Linked DNA regions of Homo sapiens: all the other regions are linked to region 1. Evidence: fine-mapped expression QTL. Tissue or cell type: whole blood. Region 1 holds a variant in brackets; each other region holds the start of a gene. Each region is shown on its reference strand, or each on the opposite one.

Region 1 (4,000 bases):
TTTCTCTCTTCATGTAGTACAACTAGGCACCAGTCCTATTTTTGTTTTTGTTTTATTAACACAATTTTAATTGTTCACAGTGAACTAATTAAGATAGAAAAAGCTCCAATTAATACACCTATGGCTTAGAAAGGGAGAAATGGGTACTTCTAAAGAGTACAAGAAAGGAAACAGCAGGTTCAAAATGATGGTTCTTTTATGGGATTAGCTTTTTTTTTCTTTTTTGAGATGGAGTCTTGCTCTGTCACCAGGCTGGAGTGCAGTGGCATGATCTTGGCTCACTGCAACCTCCTCCTCCCGGGTTCAAGTGATTCTCCTGCCTCAGCCTCCCGGGTAGCTGGGACTACAGGCGCGCACCACCATGCCCAGCTAATATTTGTACTTTTGGTAGAGATGGGGTTTCACCATGTTGGTCAGGATGGTCTCGATCTCTTGACCTTGTGATCAGCCCACCTCGGCCTCCCAAAGTGCTGGGATTACAGGCGTGAGCCACTGTGCCTGGCCAGGATTAGCTTTTAAATGATTGTTTTGGTGCCATGTGCAATCTTCCTGGATCCTGAGGTTGGAGCATTTCCTCAGCTGCCCTGCTAGGCCTGTTTCATGTCAGCCAACTTCCGGGTCCAGGATCTCCATATAACAATTTAGGGGAAAACATTCAACAGGTTGAAGAACAGGCTTAGGGATATTTTCCCAGTGTTGTAACCTTCTTGCTTACTCTTTTTTGGAAGAAATACTACTTTTTTGTAAAAATGATATTTGCTGATTCTAAAGACACTGAGTAGACAGAAGCACTATGATGGCACCTCTAGAAATTACCCCCAAGTTTTATAATTTAAGGAGAATCATATGCAAAGAAGAAAATGCAAAAATGATAATGAGAACGGGGTAAGAAAGCTTGGTTCATGCTTTAAAAGGAGAAGGGAAAGGGACATTCAGGCAATCAAGAAAGGCTGAAGAAAACTAAGAGGGCTGGAGGAACAATGATTAGATAGGAAGGCTCTTGTCAGGGATCGTGGCAGGGGTGAAGAGTGTGAGGTCCTCAATATAAGTGAAAAATGAAATTTAATTTTGTCATTCCAAATTTTATTCTAATAAGGGAGATTTGTGCTGGATCACTGGGCCAAAATGATAAGGAAGGGAAATGCTACAAAATAACTGGGCTGCCCATAAGAGTGTGGGTCACACGGCGGGCAGGAGGGGCTTGGGGTGTGTGCATGGAGAGCCACCTTTCCATATCTAGGCCCTGTCAGGACATGCTGGGGCAGCGCCGGGCAGAGCCACATGGTGATGACTGGCTGTGTTCCCTGCCACATGGAGAGGAGAGGCACAGCAGGCAGTGCGGAAGGGACGACATGGGGCTGCGGAGCTCGGCAGTCGTCAGAGTGTCTGCAGCGTGGGCCACAAGGCAAGAGCCTTTGATCAACTGTTTAGCATGTGCTCTAGCTGATGTAACTGCACACGTGTTTTAGATGTGGTTTTCCCAGTAGCACACTCTTACAGAAGCAACAGGTTAAACTGTTGCTGCCGGTGTAAAAGGGAGTTCGGCAAAGTGAAGGACTAAAGACTGAAGGAAATGTTTTGACTGTTAAGCTGGACTTGGCTTCCTGAAATGGGGTTATTGTATGTGCATTTCACACGTTCTTGAGGTGTAGGACATATCACTTCTGACTTCAAATGAGAACAAACATGCAAAGAAAGGGCTGAGGAGTTTAAATCCATTTCTGTGGCCTTTGTCCACCTAAGCGATCAACTGAAGAGAACTCTGGAGGCTGTGCTCAGCTCCTCCTCAGGCTCTGCAGACAGACACGGCCATTC[C/T]CTCTCATCCCCAGGGCTGGCAGGGTGTCAGCCTCAAAGATTCCAGAAGCCCAGGCCCTGCTTCAGGGAGGCCAGAGATAAGTAATCTCCCCCAGGACACACAGAGGGTGGATCCTCTGCTGTCCCTCCCTTCCAGAAGCCCAACGGGTCCCTGTCAGAATTCCAAGCAGAAGGTGACTCAGCACAGAGGAGGAGGGATGGGAAGAACAACTCAGTTGCCCTCTTAATCCCGCCGCTCTCGGCCATGGGTACAGTCCTGCACACTTTGTGTCTTTAAGTGGTTGCTAATCTTTAAGGAAGGGGTATTTGTGTAATACTCTGCTGAGAAATCCTGGGGAGTCAGCCAGCCTCTGGTGACCTGACCCCACTACAGGTGGAGGTCAAGTCTTCAGTCCTGCCTTGGCAGTTTCTTCTGCCTTCCTCCCAGAAAGTGGATTTCTCAGGCATGAGCTCAAGCTGAGAGTCTGGTGATGGTAAAGATCAGAGTGCAGGCAATCTGGCATAACTGTAGCTGAACTGGCTGTCTGCAGAGGAAAGCAAGGGGCTGAGGAGCGTGGAATTGGGTGGGTGCATCTGGTCTGGTGCACTGGTGCACACACATGTGTACATGAGTGACCACGTGTGCACGTGTGTACATGTGTATGTACATGTGCAAATGACACACAGAGATCGCCCTTTCTACACATATATTTAAAAAGGCAGCTCAGTAAAATCGACTCACAGGTAGAGAGTCCATTATTTACTGTGACTTTTCCATGCAGAAGGACAGTGGTGCGGCCAAATAGGCAGCAGTCTCCACTGTTCGGAATGTCAGATCAGCTCCTCCTCACTCTGCGCACATTCCCCCGCCTGCCAGCTCTGTGGGCAGAAGGCTGCAGGAGTCAGATCTGGTCTCTACAAGACTCAGAAGTCAGGATGAAATTCATGTTTCCTCCATTTCTTAACAAAGAAGCACACCTGTAGAGATTTCTGAGCAAGGAATTGTGACTTGTTGCAGAATTTATTTTATTTTATTTTATTTTTTGAGACAGGATCTTGCTCTGTGGCCCAGGCTGTAGTGCAGTGGCTCGATCACAGCTCACTGCAGTCTTGACCTCTTGGGCTCAAGCAATCCTCCTGTCTCAGCCTCCCGAGTGCCTGGAACTATTGGAATATGCCACCATGCCCAGCTAATTTTTGTATTTTTTTGTAGAGACAGGGTTTTACCATATTGCCTAGGTTGGTCTGAAACTCCTGAGCACACATGATCCTTCCACCTCAGTCTCTCAAAGTGCTGGGATTACACGTGTGAGCTACCGCACTTGGCCATAATTCTGTATCTTGATAAGAAACTCACAAGTGGCTGTGAGAAGACATAAGGAAGGAGATGTGGCTACTTTAAGCCGTTTAACGTTTCATGTAAACTTATGTCTAACCAGGGAAAAAAAACTCCAAGGACTTTGTAATATATAGTTCTCTTAAGAAACTCTTTAAGGCTTTTTTTTTCTTTTTCTTCTTTCCCTTCTCTCTTCCTCCACCTCTCCATGGTCGTCTCACTATTTCCTAAAAAGCCCCGTGCTGTATAAATGCTAGGCATATGTTATTTTATTTAGCCCTTACAATAAAGCCTTGGCTTGTGAGTGATCAGCATTGGCTGCAGCACCCTGCCTCCAACCACCTGAAGGTGTTTACAGACGGCCTCTGCCTCTGAGTAGCTCTGGAGTCCGAGCCATGCACAGGACATCACCAAGCCTCAGCTTCCTCACGTATGAAACCAAAGAAAACGCCAGCCTCATGTCACCATACAGCTGGAGAGTCACAGAGCAAAGGTGCCAGGTCCCCGCCATTAGCTGGCGCTCAGGAAATGCTGGCTGCCCCTCTCCTGCCCCGTCCCACAGCCTTCACGCGAGATTGGCCCACTACTCACACACCTCTGGCTTCCTGGCACTTCTGTCAAAACCTCACATCTCTTAGGAAGAAACTTCAAATGTCATGTTTTTTCCTAGTAGATATCAGCTGTTTCTTAGGATGAGAGTGTCTCAAAAAGTCCTGTCCTTCACATCAACAACACTTCTTCGAAGTAAGGGGGGTTCCTCCCTTTCTTTCCCATCTTTCTAGTTTTATGATTCAACAACCATTTACCAGGAAATATCTGGAAACGACTAATTTGGGTCACACACTCTTCCCATTTACAAATCGAACAACT
Region 2 (5,094 bases), not on the chromosome of region 1:
GTGGCCCAGCGGGCTGCCCGGCTCAAGACATTTCCTTGCAAGAGGTTTAAGGAGGTGAGGTCCCTCCTCCCTTTCCTCCACTGCAGGACACATGAGTCTCCCCTTTGGGCAACAGGGAGAGAATTGGGGGAGCTGGGGCCAGGCAAGTGTTTGGGAGTGGGCTTCCCATCCCAGGAAAGGATCCCATCAGGGGCTGCTGAGCTCCGGGCAGGGGTTCACACCCACCATCTTCCCACCAGGGCACCTGTCAACGCGGGGACCAGTGCTGCTACTCCCACAGCCCCCCGACACCCAGGGTTTCTGCTGATGCTGCCCCTGACTGTCCAGAGACCTCCAACCAGACCCCCCCTGGACCTGGGGCTGCCGCTGGGCCAGGCATAGACTGAACCAATAAAGAGATGTCACGTCACCTTCTCCCGATTGCCTGTGGTTTGTGTATTGGTCCATACAGCTGCATGACTGGGATCTGTTCCTCTGGGGATCGTTCGCCCCTGCCTGGCTGGAGTGTTGAGTCTGTATGGGAGGTAGGAGCTGACCATCTGCACAGTGGTCGGCCCCTCTGCAGCGAGGGTCACTGAGCCACCCCAGAGCCGGAGCCAGCGATTCCCGAAGCGGCCACGGGGCGGCAGCTGTGCGCTCGCTCCCGCGGGGGTTCTGCCCCTCTTCCCCCTCCCACCTTCAGCGCTCTCCAGGCCACGGGCTTGCGCATAGTGGGGCGCTCCTGCCCGGTAGCCCCCACGTGTCTTCGCGCCGCTGCCTCCTCGCCGCCTGGTTTCTTTGGCCCAGCTCTCCAGGGGCCACAGTGGCGGAAGCTGGACCGGAACCAGGCGCCCTGTGCATCCGCTCCAGACCAGGTGCTTCCTGCCCTGAGGCCCGGGGCGAGGGGGGCGTGCACACAAAGAGGGACCTCGCAGGCTGCTGCCCAGACACCCAGTGAGGGGGAGCTGTACCCCTCCCTGCCCTCCAGAGTGGGGTTTAGTAACGTTAACGAAGAGTCCTGGGGCAGGATCCCCTCTCTGGCTCCTGCTCCCTTCATCCCCATCTGTAATGAGGCTAATCTTAGGACCCTCCTTGTAGCGATATCAGAGTTAGCGCTTAATTTTTTTTTTTTTTTTTTTTTTTTTGAGGCAAGGTCTAGGTGTGTGGCCCAGGCTGGAGTGCAGTGGCGCAATATTGGCTCACTGCAGCCTCCACCTCCCAGGCTCACGCCATCCTCCCACCTCAGCCTCCAGAGTAGCAGGGACTACAGGCACGCACCACCACAACCAGCTAATTTTTGTATTTTTTGTAGAGATGGGGTTTTGCCATGTTTCCCAGGCTGGTCTCAAACTCATGAGCCCAAGCAATCCGCCAGCCTCAGCCTCCCAAAGTGCTGGGATGACAGGCATGAGCCACCAAGCCCGGCCTTTACTGCATAAAACTTTAGTTCCTGCTTCTTTGGAGGAAAGCAATGGAGGTGTTGATCGTGGGGTCCTGGGCTCCACCCCATTCCTGGGCGGGGGGGGGGGGGGGTTGGTAGTCCTGCTGCTGGGTGCCTGCCTGCCTGGGGGCTCTTGCAGTTGCCCAGATACACAGACGGGCCAAAGCATGAGTATCACAAGTGGGTGGCAGTCTGGTAGCTGCTGCTGCCTGGCTGTGCCCAGAGCCTCTCCCTGTGGGAGGCTCCAGTAGGGTCTTGAGGTTTACCACCAAGCCAGGATAACTGCCCCCCATGAAGGGGCCGGGTGCTGTGGGGTGAGGGCCATGGACCACCAAGTTGGAGTTATGTGATCCTGTAGCCAAGAGGCCTATAGTTGTGGGGACCTGTTGGGCATCTACTGGAAGGTCACACCAGCCCCAGCACCCTAGGAAATCCAACTTCCCCACCCCACCCCTGACAGCCATGGCTCTTCCTCTCACCCTCCTGGGCTTGGAAATGTGTGGATACTGTGCTGAGGGCTTGGGACACCTGCCCAGGCTGGACACCCAAGGCCAGACTGTTAGAACTGTTCCCCTTTGGGTGCCCCACTCCCGGGTAGGGGTGGTGGAGAGGAGGGAAGGGCCTCTGTAAAAAGAGGAACCAGGCTGGGTGAGGAGAGGAGGTGGGGGCCCAGGGTCACGCGGCCCCAACGGGCCGGAAAGGGCTCTCCCTCACCCCCATCAGCACAGACATTCGGGCAGGGAGTGTGCAAAGCCAAAGGGCAGACTCGGACATAAGAGGAGGCAGCTTCCCTGCCTCAGTTTACCCCCTGCGTGCATCCAGGCACCTCCCTCCCCGGCTGCCCTGGGGCCCGGGTCCCCAGAGGCCCGGGGTCCCTACAGTGGCTGGGGGAGCGGAAGGCGAAGCCCTGAGGGGTGGCGGACCGAGTCCTGCCAGCGCCGGCTGGGGGCGGGGCCGGGAGGCCCGCGCTGCTAGGTCCCCGCCCGCTGGTTTCCTCCGGGGTCAGCCAGGCTCCTTATCAGGCGCGGCCAGGCAGCCTGGCCCTTATCTGCACTGGGCCAGCATCCTCCGGCCGCTGCGCCGCCAGGGGTGAGAGGGAGGAAACCGGGCCGCCGGGGGCGGGGAGAAGGCGGGCCGGCCCGGGAGCCGCTCACTTTCCCTGGGGGGGACCTACGCGGAGACCTCGGCTATCCTGGCCTTCCGAGGCCCACGAGGAGGCGCGGCCCAACGCCGGGGCCTGGAGCATTGAGGCCGGACCCTCGCGAGACAGCAGAGCCTGGCCTGACGCTGGAAACCACACCCTGGCCCAGACTGCCAGCCCTGACGGGACAGAGCCAGGGCACTCACCAGGCTGCAAGAACAGTGCTGGGGTAAGAGGGGAGCGGGCCTAAAGGTGGAGGATCCCGGGCCTGGGACCCAGCCTGCATTCCTTTGTTCATTCCTTCATTCATTCATTCACCAGCAGGGACCCACTAGTGAGGGGCCAGGCCTGCTTCCCCAGGGCCTAGCTGAGGAAGACAGGGCAGAGGGGCCAACAGTCTCACACCTTGCTGGGACATCCTGGACTCTGGAACCAAGAGCAAACAGGGATGTCAAAACAGTATGCAAAACTGTGGATGATCGCGGGGCATTGTGGTGCATGCCTGTAATCCCAGCACTTTGGGAGGCTGAGGCAGGAGGATCACTTGAGCCCAGGAGTTCCAGACCACCCTGGACAACAGAGTGAGAACCTGCCTCTACAAAAAAAATTTTTTTTTTTAAATTAGCCGGGCATGGTGGCACATGCCTGTACTCTCAGCTACTCAGGAGGCTGAGACAGGAGGATGGCTCGAGCCCAGGAATTTGAGGCTGCAGTGCACTATGATTGCACCACTGCACTCCAGCCTGGACAACAGAGGGAGACCCTGTCTCTAAAAAAATAAACAAATTTTAAAAAGCGTGGATGCTGATGAGGATGGGGGCTTCCAAGCCAGAGGGAGGGTTGGGGCATGACTGGACTGGACTGGGCAGTGGGGTCAGTGTTTGGGGGTCTAGGGTCAGCATTTGAGGTCATAGTGTCAGTAGTGGGGTCACAGGGTTGCTATGGGGGATGTTTGCAGTGGGAGTGGGGGTCACTCAAGCAATTATGGAGCACTTTCAGGGACAGCAATGGGAAGAACCGCAGGGTCATTCTTGAGGTGCAGAGGGTCAGCCTGGGTGGGGGCTGGGGGCCTTCCGTGAAGGGTCAGAGTCCATCTTGGAGGGATTCCAAGCTCACATGGCATCAATGAGTTAATGAGGAGTCTCTGGGTTGGATCTTTAGATCTGAGGATAACAGGGTTAATCTTGGGGTTTCTGGGGATCCCAGGATCAGTTAGGGGCTCCCTGTCTTGTTCCCTCTCCAGGCTGCAGAGGTGAGGGAATTCTGGAAGAAGGAATATTTGCTCAGAGGCTGGGCAACAGCGCCCCTCCTGGGTCACAAAGAGCTCAGGGACAGTGCGCTGCCTAGCACCTGGGGGGCGCCTCCTACTCTAACGTAGGACCCCCCTCCCGTGTCCTGGAAGTTTCTGGGCCTGCCCCCGCCATCTGCCTTTGCCTACTGAAACTTCTCTCCTCCTCCTTTCCCCCTCCCCCTCCCTCCTTCCCATTTGAGGGGTTTCTTGAGCTAAGCAGGTGGGAGCGGGGCACCTAGTCCTCCTCCCCACTGGCTGCCTTCTTTCCCACAGGTGAGTACCCCCACGTCGGGGTCCATGTGCCCGCCTCAGGCACAGGCAGAGGTGGGCCCCACCATGACTGAGAAGGCAGAGATGGTGTGTGCCCCCAGCCCAGCGCCTGCCCCACCCCCTAAGCCTGCCTCGCCTGGGCCCCCGCAGGTGGAGGAGGTGGGCCACCGAGGAGGCTCCTCGCCCCCCAGGCTGCCACCTGGTGTACCAGTGATCAGCCTGGGCCACAGCAGGCCCCCAGGGGTAGCCATGCCCACCACAGAGCTGGGCACTCTGCGGCCCCCGCTGCTGCAACTCTCCACCCTGGGAACTGCCCCGCCCACTTTGGCCCTGCACTACCACCCTCACCCCTTCCTCAACAGGTCAGTGGGGATCTGGGGTGGGGGGCAGTGGGGATTGGGGGCCAGGGTCCTTGCCCACAAGGCATTAGTGACCCACGACCCCTTACAGTGTCTACATTGGGCCAGCAGGACCTTTTAGCATCTTCCCTAGCAGCCGGTTGAAGCGGAGACCAAGCCACTGTGAGCTGGACCTGGCTGAGGGTGAGTGTGGGTTTGTGTGCCTTGTGGGTTTGTATGCCTGTATGTGCACTTGTGGGTGCACAGAAGGCCTGGCCGTCTCTGTGTGGGGCTCATGTCTGTCCTCTACTCCACCTCGGGGAGACGTGCTTCCAGCACACACAGAGAACAGCCCACATAGGTTCTACCCATGTGCAAAATCGCAGTCCCATAGCCAGCCCCACACAACCACCGCCACCCAACAGGCCAAGCCATGTAGCCGCAGTCACGGCAAAACAGAGCATGCCACACCAGGGCATGGGAGCCACAAAATGACAGCTCCACTGGAATGTGCAGCCACGCAAGACAGCCACAAGACCACAGCCATGCAAGAGACAGCCACAGGACCACAACCACACACAAGACAGCCACAGGACCACAGCCACTTAGGACCACGGCCACACAAGAGTCAGCC
Region 3 (4,000 bases), not on the chromosome of region 1:
GAAAGTGCCTCCAGCACGTGGGGCTGGCCCTCCTGGCAGAACTGCTTGAACATGTGTTTGTCGTCTCCTGCCATCTTACATGAGTAGCTCTCAATCCTATAGGATGCAGAGAGAACCATGAAGCATGCTTCCCCCAGGTTCCACTGAAGGGCGCGGCAGTGTGACCTCCGAGATGCCAGCCCCCCCAGCCTGCCTCACCTGCCAATGATGTGGGCATCTCCAGTCTCCACAGTCAGCTGTGAGTTGATGGCTTCAAAGCTCGAGTTCTCCAATAGCTTCATGTCTTTGGGGAAGGAGCTCCGTGCTCCAGAGGGGCTAGTATTGCCTGGGGAGTGAGAGACCAGACCATGGGTATCTATCTGGCCCCTTGGGGCCCTGCCTTCAGCCCTCCTACCCACTAAGTGGAGCCGCTAGGAACAAGCTGAGTCTGGCCTCTGTCCAGGCTGCACATCAGGAGCTCCCCTCTCTGCCCGGCCAGGAGAGGTGACAGAGATCCTGTTTTACCTGAGGGTGGTAAGTCCAGGCTCCAGGTCAGCCATACCCCCTGCAGAACACGCGAGTTCTGGGACTAGACTAGACCACCGGGGACCCTGCTCACCCTGGGGCTGCTGGCTGAGATTGTTGCTCAACATTCCCATTCCCCATCTCCACGCCCACTCCAAAAGAGCTCCAGCCACCATGGGGGTAACTCTTGAGTCCGCAACGGGACGTGACTCCTGCAGTCTCCCTCAGGCTGGCTGGGCTCCTCAGCCAAGGTAAGAGGCTGCATCCCGGTTAGGAACCAGGACACCTGGGACTCCGGGCCCTGCGGTCACCTGGGCGGGCGCTCTTTCGTTTTGGCTACTTTCTGGCCCGGGGAGAGGAAAACTACAGGTTCCTCCACTCTACCCGGAAAAATTGCCTAGTTTCTCCAGACGCCTAGGAGGGCGGTCCCTCGGCCCCGCTGGGGCGCTGCAGTCACCAGGCAGCGCCCGCCTGGGCCACGTCGGGCACCAGCCAAGCCGCGGTGGAACTACAAATCCCAGGAGGCAGCGCGCCGCGCGAGGCCTGCTGGGGGCTGTGGTTCCGGGTACGCAGACGGCGCGGGACGCAGGGCGGACACCCACCTGCCTGGCTGGGTTAGATCAGGCCGCGCCGGGCCGGGTCTGGCTGGGCTGGGTCGCTCCGCGTCGGTGCCGGTGCGCAGGCGGGGGCGGGCTCCGCGCAGCGCGGGCTCTTCAAGATCGGAGGGCGGCGCCGCGGCCTCCGCTCGGGCCGCACTGTATCCGGGGGAAGAAGCTCCGCGGCGACGTCCCGTTACTCCCGGCCCTGCCGGCCCATCCGGGCTGCCACCGCGACATAGCCTCGCCCCCTTCCACAGAGCCCGCTCTCGCGACCGACCTGCCGCCGACCGCCACAGAGCGCTCCGGCGAGTCAGCGAGCCGAGCGAGCGAGCGAGCGACCTCCGCCTCCCCCGGCCGGACAACAACAAGCGTCCGCCGGGCCCGGCCCCGCGCCTCTGAATGGCCCGCTCCAGTCTCCGAGATCGAGAGCTCGAATAGCCATCGGGTGCCGTACCCGCCACTCAGTTCTGCCTTCTACGTCTACTGGTTATGGAGCCTGTCTGTCACTCTTCTCGTCGTACTAACCCGCTTACCCCCGGCGTTCATTGGCCGTGGCCTCTCTAGCTCCGCCCCCTAGGGGGGTCGACCCCGTAACCAGTGAGGCGCGGGCCAACCTAGTGCGACGTGTGGGCGTGGCGGGGGCTGGGGTCTGCGGGCGAAGGTGGCAGCCCATTGGAGGTCCCGGGAGCGAAGTCCAGCTGCCGTTAGGCGCTGGGATAGTCGCACGCTGGATGCATCTACGTCCGCCGAGCCCCTGGGGCGAAGAGGCCGCGTCCGCCTTCAGTTGTGGCCGGTGCTTCGCCCCCTGACCCTTCGCCCCCAAAGACCAGCTCTAACGTGAGCGCCTCGGCCGCCCTGCCCCAGCCTCGTACACGCCGCCAGCCTCGCCCAGCCGGTGTCCGGAGACCCTCGGGCCGTGTCCATTTGTGGGCAAAGCCAGCGGGGCAGGCTTGGCCAGAGTGCACCACTCGGCGCCGTCCCAGGCCCGACGCTCTGGGCGCGCCCGGAACCCCAGGTTCGCGGCCCGTGTTTCCGACCGGCGGAGGGGGCTCAGCGGCCCGATCCCACGGAAGCGCGCTCGGAGGGGTGGGACCCGGCCGGACCGGAGATGGCGCCGCCAGCGGGCGGGGCGGCGGCGGCGGCCTCGGACTTGGGCTCCGCCGCAGTGCTCTTGGCTGTGCACGCCGCGGTGAGGCCGCTGGGCGCCGGGCCAGACGCCGAGGCACAGCTGCGGAGGCTGCAGCTGAGCGCGGACCCTGAGCGGCCTGGGCGCTTCCGGCTGGAGCTGCTGGGCGCGGGACCTGGGGCGGTGAGTGGGGGCGGAGGGCGCGCGGTCAGTCCTCTTGGCCCGGGCAGGGCACGGAGCCCAAAGTTAGGCCCCTCCGCTTGCCACCTGGGTGCCCTTAAGCAGTTATGTTTCTTTGCTTCTGTTTTCTCGTCCGTGAAATGGGGGTGACGCTCGGACCTACTGGGACCTACCTGGACCTACTTTACAGGGCTATTGTGAGGATTTGATGATAGGCGTACAGGGCTTAGGACCGTGTAAATGGTCTATAAATGTTACCTTGTATTTCTTTGCTCCTCGTGCGATGTAGGGCGGGGGGACGCCCTGAGCCTGGACTCTCCCTCTTCTCAGGTTAATTTGGAGTGGCCCCTGGAGTCAGTTTCCTACACCATCCGAGGCCCCACCCAGCACGAGCTACAGCCTCCACCAGGAGGGCCTGGAACCCTCAGCCTGCACTTCCTCAACCCTCAGGAAGCTCAGCGGTGGGCAGTCCTAGTCCGAGGTGCCACCGTGGAAGGACAGAATGGTCAGTGCCCTGTAATGGATACAATTACAATTTGGAATAGCCTTGGCCCCCCAGTCCTGGTTGGGGAAGTTGGATCCACCTTCCCCACTGCTGGATGTCTGGGAAGGCTTCCAGGAGGGAGTAGGTGGAGCCTGGAGTAGCTTGGAGTACTTGGAGTGGCTGCTGGAGTCAGTCTCCTACACCATCTGAGGCCCCAGCCAGCACAAGTTGCAGCCTCCACCAGGAAGCCCTGGAACCTCAGCCTGCACTTCCTTAACCCTCAGGAAGGATGAGAGGCAAGCATGAAGAGGCAGAGCAGGCAGGGTCAGGACCTGTGTGAGAAGACATCATCCCAAGAGCAGCAGGAGAGTGACAGGAGTGGGAGAGTGACAGACTCAGATACCTCCTGCTTAAGACAGAGTTCTGCAGTGGCAAGGGTTGGTGCAGATAGGGTTGGGGAGAAGGATGTTTCTAGAGATGCTTAGAAGATGGAATTAGTGGCCGGGTGGGGTGGCTCACGCCTGTAATTCCAGCACTTTGGGAGGCCGAGGTGGGTGATCACCTGATGTCAGGAGTTTGAGACCAGCCTGGTCAGCAAGGTGAAACCCTGTCTCTACTAAAAATACAAAAATTAGCCAGGCGTGGTGGCGTGTGCCTGTAGTCCCAGCTACTTGGGGAGGCTGAGGCAGGAGAATCACTTGAACCCGGAGGCAGAGGTTGCAGTGAGCTGAGATCTTGCCACTGCACTCCAGCCTGGGTGACAGAGCAAGACTCCATCTCAAAAAAAAAAAAAAAAGAAGATGGAATTAGCTGAGTTTCATGGCTGCTTGGGAGGTTTTTTGCAGACAAAGACTCCCTCTCTCACCCAGACTGGAGTGCAGTAGCGTGACCCTAACTCACTGGAGCCTTGAACTCCTGGTCTACGGTGATCCTCCTGCTTCAGCCTAAGTAGCTGTTATTGGCATGAGCCACTGCCCCTGGCTCACATGGCTGCTTAAATGGAAGAGTTAGCAGTTGAGACTGAGAAACATGAAGGACTAGGTAGTATGGGGCTCCCAGATAGAGGGCAGCCCACAAACGAGATAAGCAGAGCTGCCAGAGGGGTAG
Region 4 (4,877 bases), not on the chromosome of region 1:
GCCTGTAATCCCAGCTACTCAGGAGGCTGAGGCAGGAGAATCACTTGAACCCAGGAGGCGAAGGCTGCAGTGAGCCGAGATCGCACCACCGCACTCCAGCTTGGGTGACAGAGCAAGACTCCATCTCGAAAAACAGCAAAAAAAATGTAAATCAGAGCCAGGTGTGGTGGCTAATGCCTGTAATTCCAGGACTTTGGGAGGCCGACATAGACAGATCACTTGAGCCCAGGAGTTTGAGACCAGCCTGGGCAACATGGGGAAACTCCATTCTCTACAAAAAATACAAAAATTAGCTGGGTGTGGAGGTGCGAGCCTGTATTCACAACTACTGGGGAGGCTGAGGTGGGAGGATCACCTGGGATGGGGAGGTCGAGGCTGCTGTGAGCTGAGATCACACCATTGCACTGCAGGCTGGGTGACATACCCTGTCTCAAAAAAAAAAAAAAAAAAAAGGCCGGGCACGGTGGCTCATGTCTGTAATCCCAGCACTTTGGGAGGCTGAGGCAGTCGGATCACCTGAGGTCAGCAGTTTGAGACCAGCCTGGCCAAAATGGTGAAACCCTGTCTCTACTAAAAATACAAAAATTAGCCGGGCGTGGTGGTGTGTACCTGTAGTCCCAGATACTAGGGAGGCTGAGGCAGGACAATCACTTGAACCTGGCGGGCAGAGTTTACAGTGAGCCAAGATAGCACCACTGCACTCCAGCCTGTGCAACAGAGCAAGACTCCATCTCGAACAAACAACAATAACAAAAAAAAAAAAAAAAATGAGGAAAGAGTTCAACAGAAAGACCACCTGAAAAAGGGGTAAACAATATGAAGAAAATTCACCAATACAAGATCCACCACCCTCCAAAGAAAGACTAAAAAATATGACAAATTGCTCAACTTCATTCATAATAAAAAAAGAAATATGAAAGTGCCTTCGGTTTTTACCCATCTAATTGGCAAGGATAAAACATTTGATAACACACTGTGTGGTTCAGGGTGTAAGGAAATTGGCGGGGCGCGGTGGCTCACGCCTGTAAACGATTCTCCTGTAAGCGAGTCTGCTGCCTCAGCCTCCCGAGTAGCTGGGATTACAGGCATGCGCCACCACGCCCAGCTAATTTTTTGTATTTTTAGTAGAGACGGGGTTTCACCACATTGGCCACGCTGGTCTTGAACTCCTAACCTCAGGTGATCCGCCCGCCTCGGCCTCCCAAAGTGCTGGGATTACGGGCGTGAGCCACCGCGCCCGGCCTGTCCTATGGAGTTTACAATTAATAACTCTCTTAATCATCACAATAGCTCAACGAGAGAGGTTGGTACTATTACCCATTTTACAATTGAGGACATTGAAGCACAGAGCAGTTGAGAAACTTGCCTAACTAGCAGAGTTAGAATCCAGACAAAGTGCTTAACCACAAGGCGATGCTTCTTCTATATATAAACTGACGGACGGATGAAATAGGCTGATTGACTGATGAGTGACTGACTGACTGACTGAATGAATAAATGGAAATGTGATTATAAATGTTGATTTTTTGCGCCTCCCGATTCCCCAGATCTACCGCGAGGGGGCGATCTCTCCCCGGTCCTGATGCCAGTCACTCAAGGCGCGCACTCCCTTTGCGTCTCGGGCTCGCGCGCGTTGCCGCGGCACCGGAAGTGACTGAGCTTGCAAGTTCCCCTGTCTCTTCAGGGGAAACTGAGGCCGGCTTGTTCGGGAGAGACGGCGCGAGCAGTCAGCCAGGTAGGCCGGCAGCCAGGTAGGCCGGCCCGGGTCCGCGGCGCGGAACTCGGCCGCGAAGAGCTCTTGCGTCTGGAAGCTACCGGGCCGATGAAGGGGGATGTGGCCCCCCACGGCTCGCGGGGCTCGCAGGTGAGAGCGCCGCCTCCCCTGTGCGTGACAGCCGTTGCGCCCAATAGGAGCCTTCGCCGTCCCGCTTCCGTGCCGGCTGGGCTCGCTGATTGGCTGCGCTGGGGCGGACCGCCGGGGGCGAGGCCCCTCCTCTCAGGAAGGTCTAGGGGGCGCCCCCGGGGGAGGGCGGTTGCCTAGCAACGGGGCGGTGGCTCGGCGGGTACCCGGCCTAGTGAGCTCGAGAAGCCGCTAGGCCGCAGCCGGCCCACCCTGGGCTCCGGAGAGGTGCAGCCCCCGGCCCCGGAGCCCTCCCGGGGGCGCCAGAAAGCCACTTTGGGCCTGTCCCCAGGAAAACGTGGTCTCAGCTGTGGGGCCGTCGAGCAGGCCTCGACCCCTCTTCCTGACCTGAGGAGAGGCCCAGCGCCTCACCCTCACCCAGTCTTTGTGCAGGGCGCCGGCGGCCATTGTGTCCGGGCGGGGAATGGAGGACCCGGCAATCCCCAACTGCCACGTTCTGGGCCTTTGGGGAATTCAGAGCAAACCAGCGGCATTTGTTGGGGGTCTCCGGCCTTCAACATCACAGACAGGCCTGGGGGTGGCCTTCCCAAAGTCAGATTGCAGATCTGAGGCAGTTTCCCCCTCCCTGCGTCCCTCACTGAAACCTTGAACCCCATTGAGAAGTCCCTTTAGGGTTTCGGACGCCTCCACCTCACCCTGGGCTGGTGCTTAAATAGAAAAAAGAAAAACAAAAACCAACTAAATCCATACCAGCCACCTCCGGGAGAGTACTCCTGGCTCCCAGTAGGAGGCGGAGAGCCAAGGGGCGTGCAAGAGAGAGGGGGCTGGGCTCCCGGGTGGCAGGAGGCCGCGGCTGCGGAGCGGCCGCCCTCGATCCGGGCGATGGAGGAGGAAGCAAGCGAGGGGGCTGGTTCCTGAGCTTCGCAATTCCTGTGTCGCCTTCTGGGCTCCCAGCCTGCCGGGTCGCATGATCCCTCCGGCCGGAGCTGGTTTTTTTGCCAGCCACCGCGAGGCCGGCTGAGTTACCGGCATCCCCGCAGCCACCTCCTCTCCCGACCTGTGATACAAAAGATCTTCCGGGGGCTGCACCTGCCTGCCTTTGCCTAAGGCGGATTTGAATGTAGGTGGTGCGGGGGAGCGGGAGTGGGGCGGGGGGGACTGCCCAGGGAGTGACTTTCCGAGGAAGGCATTTCGGAGAAGACGGGGGTAGAAAAGGCTGGTGGGAGATTCAGAGTCCACTGGTGCTTTCGATTTGACTTAAGTGAAGTATCTTGGAACCTAGACCCAGACCTTCGTAAGACCCACAAAGAAACCAGTTCTGGTACCTGGAGGGGGAATGGAATTTTTAGGGTAAATGGCATGCATATTAATTATTTTTTTTTCCTGAAGCTCTTTCTCTCCCTTCAGAATCTTATCTTGGCTTTGGATCTTAGAAGAGAATCACTAACCAGAGACGAGACTCAGTGAGTGAGCAGGTGTTTTGGACAATGGACTGGTTGAGCCCATCCCTATTATAAAAATGTCTCAGAGCAACCGGGAGCTGGTGGTTGACTTTCTCTCCTACAAGCTTTCCCAGAAAGGATACAGCTGGAGTCAGTTTAGTGATGTGGAAGAGAACAGGACTGAGGCCCCAGAAGGGACTGAATCGGAGATGGAGACCCCCAGTGCCATCAATGGCAACCCATCCTGGCACCTGGCAGACAGCCCCGCGGTGAATGGAGCCACTGGCCACAGCAGCAGTTTGGATGCCCGGGAGGTGATCCCCATGGCAGCAGTAAAGCAAGCGCTGAGGGAGGCAGGCGACGAGTTTGAACTGCGGTACCGGCGGGCATTCAGTGACCTGACATCCCAGCTCCACATCACCCCAGGGACAGCATATCAGAGCTTTGAACAGGTAGTGAATGAACTCTTCCGGGATGGGGTAAACTGGGGTCGCATTGTGGCCTTTTTCTCCTTCGGCGGGGCACTGTGCGTGGAAAGCGTAGACAAGGAGATGCAGGTATTGGTGAGTCGGATCGCAGCTTGGATGGCCACTTACCTGAATGACCACCTAGAGCCTTGGATCCAGGAGAACGGCGGCTGGGTAAGAACCAAGCCCCTTGTGTGTCCCTTTTCTTTGGCCTCTGGTCAGAGATCCCCAACAGCCCTTCTTCTGTATCTCTTTCTGTTGTGTTGGGTGATTGTTGGAGACGTTGATAGTTGAGGAAACCTGACTGGCCTCATTTCACCACAAGAGGTTAACTCCTTGGAAATACAAATGACCCTGTGCTTCAGAGATCAGGCATCTTTCACCCTGGTCACCCCCATGACTCCACTATTCCATACTTGTGTTCCAGTTTCTCAGCAAAGAAAACTGTAGCCTATGTGTTCATTAAGTCCCAAACCTGTGAGGGTAGGAAGTTAGTTCGGTGTTTCCCTTACCTTATACAATGGTTCACACACAAAGGGGTGATGAGTATAATGCCTGGAGAAGATGATGAGCATCAATGACCCACAGACCTCTCCATCTGTTCCCCCCAAGGGGTCTCAGTCCTATCCTGGGCTTCTCTCCCCCAAATCAAGTTCCCTTTATTTCAAAGTTTGCGTGTATGGCACTCTCCTCTCAGACTAGGGCATGGCCATAGGCAGGAGTTCCCACTGGGTTGAATGGCTGAGAATTGTCAGATTTTGGGGCAGTGTAGGCTGTGCAGATTGTGTTTGCACTGCGCCCCCTAAGTTCATTTCCCCCAAAGTGTGCGACTTTCTGCATGGTTGCCTTGTTTGTGGAGCACTTGCTGTGTCACACATTAAGCCAGGGGACTTTGCACCTCATTGCCTGGGGTCGGTTGGGGAGCTCCAGCTGCTCTGCCTGTTACTTTCCGGCCAGAGCCCAGGGGCCTCTTCAAGCACTGTTTGCTGGCAAAGCAAGAACCTAGTCTTTGGGGCTCTGTGGGACATTGAGATTTAGTAACAGACTTCACATGCAGGTATAAGTTCCAGTTCTGTCATGTAACTAGCTGTGTGACCTTGGACAGGC

Evidence for each region. PIP is the estimated chance that this variant, and not a neighbour inherited with it, causes the effect.
Region 2: it holds the start of LYL1, and the variant in region 1 is the best candidate, but not a certain one, in a credible set for the expression of LYL1 in whole blood (TOPMed, PIP 0.88).
Region 3: it holds the start of SHARPIN, and the variant in region 1 is fine-mapped to the expression of SHARPIN in whole blood (TOPMed, PIP 0.92).
Region 4: it holds the start of BCL2L1, and the variant in region 1 is the best candidate, but not a certain one, in a credible set for the expression of BCL2L1 in whole blood (TOPMed, PIP 0.81).

Annotation. Positions count from the first base shown.
Region 1 is chr7:50,358,100-50,362,099 of GRCh38, reverse strand. All of the region lies in intron 3 of IKZF1 (IKAROS family zinc finger 1), which reads right to left. Among named protein-coding and RNA genes, the nearest start is that of IKZF1, 55 kb to the right of the region's middle. RefSeq lists enhancers at 812-1,329, 1,330-1,849. The variant C/T (reference allele first, on the strand shown) is at 1,816.
Region 2 is chr19:13,100,227-13,105,320 of GRCh38, reverse strand. It overlaps LYL1 (LYL1 basic helix-loop-helix family member), which reads left to right and starts at 2,463. Exons shown (of 4, transcript NM_005583.5): 1 at 2,463-2,790; 2 at 4,126-4,484; 3 at 4,573-4,664. The coding sequence starts at 4,150. It overlaps LOC105372282 (a long non-coding RNA gene), which reads right to left and starts at 905. Exons shown (of 2, transcript XR_001753871.2): 1 at 677-905; 2 at 415-513. It overlaps TRMT1 (tRNA methyltransferase 1), which reads left to right. Exons shown (of 17, transcript NM_001136035.4): 16 at 1-54; 17 at 240-414. The coding sequence ends at 386. RefSeq lists enhancers at 721-780, 692-986, 921-1,000, 4,964-5,023, 5,083-5,094, cis regulatory regions at 410-990, 1,790-2,710 and a silencer at 2,081-2,690.
Region 3 is chr8:144,101,965-144,105,964 of GRCh38, reverse strand. SHARPIN (SHANK associated RH domain interactor) reads left to right here and starts at 2,192. Exons shown (of 9, transcript NM_030974.4): 1 at 2,192-2,412; 2 at 2,740-2,914. The coding sequence starts at 2,212. MAF1 (MAF1 negative regulator of RNA polymerase III) reads right to left here and starts at 1,504. Exons shown (of 8, transcript NM_032272.5): 1 at 1,107-1,504; 2 at 199-325; 3 at 1-96. The coding sequence starts at 281. RefSeq lists enhancers at 905-1,199, 1,951-2,000 and silencers at 1,061-1,300, 2,061-2,340, 2,351-2,450.
Region 4 is chr20:31,720,722-31,725,598 of GRCh38, reverse strand. It overlaps BCL2L1 (BCL2 like 1), which reads left to right and starts at 2,731. Exons shown (of 3, transcript NM_138578.3): 1 at 2,731-2,981; 2 at 3,251-3,944. The coding sequence starts at 3,381. RefSeq lists enhancers at 1,633-1,832, 1,602-2,356, 2,363-2,422, 2,357-3,112, 4,754-4,873 and silencers at 1,863-2,312, 2,519-2,813, 2,713-2,822, 2,873-2,992.